2 separate regions of the Homo sapiens genome follow, and region 1 is linked to region 2. Evidence: fine-mapped expression QTL. A gene starts in region 2. The other region holds a variant in brackets. All regions are shown on one strand. Distances are between the middles of the regions.

The links.
Region 1: its variant is fine-mapped to the expression of AP1M2 in whole blood (TOPMed, PIP 0.92).

The regions. Positions count from the first base shown.
Region 1 is chr19:10,632,720-10,635,630 of GRCh38, reverse strand. SLC44A2 (solute carrier family 44 member 2 (CTL2 blood group)) reads right to left here. Exons shown (of 22, transcript NM_020428.4): 11 at 744-875; 12 at 558-657; 13 at 376-468; 14 at 116-200. Among named protein-coding and RNA genes, the nearest start is that of SLC44A2, 8.6 kb to the right of the region's middle. The variant C/T (reference allele first, on the strand shown) is at 1,298.
Region 2 is chr19:10,585,838-10,588,748 of GRCh38, reverse strand. AP1M2 (adaptor related protein complex 1 subunit mu 2) reads left to right here and starts at 1,437. Exons shown (of 12, transcript NM_005498.5): 1 at 1,437-1,559. The coding sequence starts at 1,518.

The DNA.
Region 1 (2,911 bases), 47 kb before region 2:
AGGACATGCAACAGGGGCCAATTGTTTGCTGAACCTCCAAGTGGACATGAGAGGTTTCAAATCATCTGGGGCCTGCTGGGGCAATACCTGCCCTCCCCACCCCGGGGACGCCCACCTCTGGGTTGCAGGTTTTCGCAGTAAATGGGCAGGGGCTGTCATCAAAGATCTTATAGACCGCTTCGTTGGAAGTGGACAGGAAGCTGGAGGTTCGTTAAGGAAGCAGAGGTCTAGGACTGAGGACCCCAGGGACTTTTGTGGGAAAGAATCCATTCTCCCACCAGTTTCCAGCCCTATCCCTAAGCTGCAGGTCACTTCTAGGCAAAGTTGGTCTTTAGCCATCCCTGGGGTCAGAGATCAGTGTCTGGGGGCAGATACACAGCAGTGCTGGCCCAGTAGGCGATGCAGAGGCACAGCAAGAAGAAGGTGACCAGTGGGTAGAGCAAGGAGCACATGACGTATCCCACAGCCCTAGGGAAGAGCAGAGACACAGGCGTCAGGGCAAAAGACACAACTCTAGGGACAGCTCCATCCTGGCCCCTGGCACCCTGGCCCCCCACCTGCTGGCTTCTTTGATGAGTGCAATCGCGATGAGAATTCTCTTCCGGAGAAAGATGAGCAGCAAGATGATAATGACTTCAAGGATACTCAGAATGATCACTGCAAAGGGCAAAGGCTGAGCCGGCTGGGCTCCCCACTCCCTCCAAGGCCTCATGTGGGGGCAGGAATGGGAGACTGTGACTCACTAAAGGCCAACCAGGTCTGCCGTAAGTGCAGGTACACCCGGAAATCCGTCTGAAAGCCGAGGTCCACCAAAGAGACATCAGAGCCGGCCTCACCACGCAGTCGGGAGTACTCCATGTAGCAGTGAAATATTCCTGCATGGGGGAACCACAAGCTCAGTCCAGCAGTGCCTCCTGCAACTTTGCAAAGCAGCTACAACTGCCCCCATTTAACAGAAGCAAACATCGAGGCTTCTGCCTCAGGGACTTTACACTTGCAGTTCCCACCGCCCGGTGCATTCTCTCCCCATGGCTGGATCCCACACATCCTTAGGTCTCTGCTCAAGTGTCACCTTCAGAAGAGAACTTCCAGAACCCTTTCCCCCTACTTGGAATCATAATCATATGCTGCCATGGTCTAAGTTCTCTCTCTTTTTTTTTTTTTTTGAGACGGAGTTTCACTCTTGTTGCCCAGGCTGGAGTTCAATGGCACAATCTCGGCTCACCGCAACCTCCACTTCACGGGTTCAAGCGATTCTCCTGCCTCAGCTTCCCGAGCAGCTGGGATTACAGGCATG[C/T]GCCACCATGCCCGGCTAATTTTGTATTTTTAATAGAGATGGGGTTGGCCGGGCGCGGTGGCTCACGCCTGTAATCCCAGCACTTTGGGAGGCCAAGACGGGTGGATCACGAGGTCAGGAGTTCGAGACCAGCCTGACCAACATGGTGAAACCCCGTGTCTACTAAAAATACAAAAAAAAAAAAAAAAAAAAAAAATTAGCTGGGCGTGGTGGTGGGCGCCAGTAATCTCAGCTACTCAGGAGACTGAGGTAGGAGAATTGCTTGAACCCGGGAGGCGGAGGTTGCAGTGAGCTGAGATCGCGCCACTGCACTCCAGCCTGGGCGACAGTGAGAGACTCTGTCTCAAAAAAAAAAAAAAATAGAGATGGGGTTTCTACATGTTGGTCAGGCTGGTCTCGAACTCCCAACCTCAGGTGATCCGCCCACCTCTGTCTCCCAAATTGCTGGGATTACAGGCGTGCGCCACCGCACCCAGCTAGAAACCACTATTAATATGAATATTTTACTATGAGTGTCCTCAAATTGGATTGCCAAGCATTTTTCTTCCAGGAAAGTTCAAGGAATAATCAAAATATGGGCCAGGCACAGTGGCTTGCGCCTGTAATCCCAACACTTAGGGAGGCCAAGGCGGGAGGACTGCTCAAGCTCAGGAGTTCAAGACTAGCCTGGGCCACATAGGGAGAACCTGTCTCTACAAAAATATTAAAAATTTAGCCAGGCATGATGGTGCTTGCCTGTGGTTTCAGCTACTTGGGAGGCCAAGACGGGAGGATCACTTGAGCCCAGGAGGTCAAGGCTGCAGTGAGCTGTGATTGTGCCACTGAACTCCAGCCTGGGTGACAGAGTGAGACTCTGTCTCAAAAAACAAATCAAGGCTGGGCGCGGTGGCTCACGTCTGTAATCCCAGCACTTTGGGAGGTCGAGGCAGGCAGATCACGAGGAAGTCGAGACCAGCCTGGCCAATATGGTAAAACCCCATCTCTACTAAAAATACAAAAAAAATTAGCCGGGCATGGTGGTGTGCGCCTGTAATCCCAGATACTCGGGAGGCGAGGTAGGAAAATTGCTTGAACCCGGGAGGCAGAGATTGCAGTGAGCCGAGACTGCACCACTGCACGCCAGCCTGGGTGACAAAGCAAGACTCCGTCTCAACAACAACAACAAAACAACAACTCAAAAACAACAAAAATCCAAAATATGAAGCACTGTTTTGTTGAGCACGATATTGTGCCTCTGGATTCCACAGGCCTGAACTAAACAGGCCCCTACCCATATTTTATCTGCTCATTACCTCCTTGTCATTTAGTTTGCCAACTAGAAATATGAATTACCCTCATTTTATAGAGAAATAAATTGAAGCAGTCCGGGCGCGGTGGCTCCTGCCTGTAATCCTAGCACTTTGGGAGGCTGAAGCGGGCAGATCTCCTGAGGCCAGGAGGTCGAGACCAGCCTGACCAACATGGAGAAACCCCATCTCTACTAAAAATACGAAATCAGCCGGGCATGGAGGTGCATGCCTGTAATCCCAGCTACTTGGGAGGCTGAGGCAGGAGAATAGCTTGGACCCAGGAGGCGGAGGTTGCAGTGAGCCAAGATCGCGCCATGGCACTCCA
Region 2 (2,911 bases):
GTTTTTTGGCTGGGTGCGGTGGCTCACGCCTGTAATCTCAGCCCTTTGGGACGCTGAGGCGGGTGGATCACCTGAGGTCGGGAGTTCGAGACCAGCCTGGCCAACATGGTGAAACCCCATCTCTATTAAAAATACAAAATTAGCCAGGCGTGATGGCGCATACCTGTAATCCCAGCTACTTGGGAGGCTGAGGCAGCAGAATCCCTTGAACCCGGGAAGCGGAGGTTGTAGTGAGTAGAGATCATGCCACTGCACTCCAGCCTGGAGTCTAAAAAAAAAAAAAAATTAGCTGGGCATGGTGGCGCTTGCCTGTAATCCCAGCTACTAGGGGTGCTGAGGCAGGAGGATTGCTTGAACCTGGGAGGTGGAGGTTGCAGTGAGCCAAAATCATTCCACTGCACTCCAGCATGGGCAACAGAGTGAGACTCCATTTCAAAAAACAAAAAAAAATAAATTTTTTATTTGAAATGAATAAGAGTAAATTTGTAAGAATAATAAAAGCAAGTACATTTGTCCTGCTCGGAATTATATCCACAGTTCCTGTTACTGAGTGAATGAATATTTCAAATTCAGTCAGTAAAATTCACCAGTGAAAATTATTATATGAATGAGTGAATGAATGAATTGGGCAAATTTTGAGCACCCAGTGCTGAGCACTAGGGACATAAACATGAACAAGACAAAGTCCCTGCTGTATGGGGGCTGACGTGTGTGGGTGAGACAGAGGAGAAAGAAGGTGAATGGATGGATGAATCAATGAGAGGATGAATGAATGGATAGATGGGTGGATGAATGGATAGATGAATAAATTAATGAATGCAAGAATGGATGGATGGATGGATTGATGAATGGATAGATGAATAAATTAATGATGCAAGAATGGATGAACGGATGGATGGATGGATGGATAGATGAATAAATTGATGAATGTTAGAATGGATGAATGGATGGATGAATGGAAAGATGAATAAATGAATGAATGCAAGAAGGGATGAATGAATGGATGAATAAATGGATGGATGAATGGATAATGGATAGACGAACAAATAAATGAATGCAAAAATGGATGAAGAAATGGATGACGAATGGAAGGATGGATCAATGAATCGATGGAAGATGGATTAATGAATGGCTAAATGAGTGGATGCGTGGATGGATTAATGAATGCAAGAATGAATGGATGGATGGACGAATGGATGGATAGATGAATGAAAGGAAGGATGAATGAATGGATGGAAGGATGGTTGATTGGTTTGGGGTCTCCACCCGTCATTACTCCTGGGTGGCTAGGGAAAGTGAAGGGGGGCAGCAGACCCATCTGAAGTCGCAGTACCTCTCCCGGCCCCGCAGCCATCTTCAAGTTGGCCGACAGCGCTGCTCACCTGGCCGCCTCCCCTTTAAGACGCACACACCTGGGCTCTCACCTGGGCGCAGGCGCTTCCGCAGGAAGAAGGAAGCGGCGCCGCCATCGCCTCCCGGCGCTCCCTCCCCGACTCCTAAGTCCTTCGGCCGCCACCATGTCCGCCTCGGCTGTCTTCATTCTGGACGTTAAGGGCAAGGTGAGGCTGGGCATGAGGAGTTGGGAGACGGACAGGTGAGGTCTCGCTCCCAGGGATTCAGGGGCGACCCCTCCGCGCGGGCCAGGAAGAGGTCTGGGAACACCCCCTCCCCCTGCAATCCCTGGGAATCCCACCTCCAGCATCCACTCGCCTTGTGCCTGAGGCCAAGGGGTTCGCCTCCTAGGGCCTCAGTTTCTCTGTATGTAAAAATGGGAGCAACAGAGGTCCCCACCCAATGAGAATTAATACAACTCGCTGCGTGTAAACTACTTAGCATAGTGGCCTTTCTGGAAATATTAGGGACTCAGCAAATTGAAATTATCTCCATCACTGTCGGCATCCACAGTGTTAATACCTGGGGAAGGCAACTGGAACAGGGGCCTCTAACTCCCCCCATCTGTGGCTGCCTTGCCTCTTCCTGAAGTCCTTTTATTCCTCTTGTCTTTTTTTATTTTGGAGACAGGGTCTCTTGCTGTCTCCCAGGCTTGAGTGCAGTGGTGCGATCATAGCTCACTGCAGCCTGGAATTCCTGGGCTCAAGCGATCCTCCTGCCTCAGTCTCCGGAGTAGCTGTGACTACACAGGTGCAGGCCACCATGCCTGGCTAATTCTTGACATTTTTTTGTAGAGGGATCCCGCTATGTTGCCAAAGCTGCTCTCAAACTCCTGAATATCTGGGGCTGCGGGCTGACCCCTCCATGCCCGGCTATTTTTAATTTTTTTTTTTTTTTTTTTTTAAATAGAGTCTTGCTCTGTCACCCAGGCTGGAGTGCAGTGGCTCCATCTTGGCTCACTGCAACCTCCACCTCCCGGGTTGAAGCAATTCTCCTGCCTCAGCCTCCCGAGTAGCTGGGACTACAGGTGCATGCCACCATGCCTGGCTAATTTTTGTATTTTTTTTTTTTTTCAAGACAGAGTCTCGCCTTGTCACCCAGGCTGGAGTGCAATGGCATGATCTTGGCTCACTGCAACCTCCACCTCCCAGGTTCAAGTGATTCTCCTTCCTCAGCCTCCTGAGTAGCTGGGATTACAGGCGCGCACCATCACGCCCGGCTAATTTTTTGTATCTTTAGTAGAGATGGGGTTTCACCATGTTGGGCAGGATGGTCTCAATCTCTTGACCTCGTGATCCGCCCACCTCGGCCTCCCAAAGTGCTGGGATTACAGACATGAGCCACTGCGCCCGGCCGCACCCGGCCTATTTTTTATTTTTATTTTTTTGTACAGATGGAGTCTTGCTATGTTGTCCAGGATGGTCTTGAACTCCTGGTCCCCAGCTATCCCCCTGCTTCAGCCTCCCAAAGTGTTCGGATGACAGGTGTGAGCCACTGCAGTCAGCCTGTCTTGTCATTT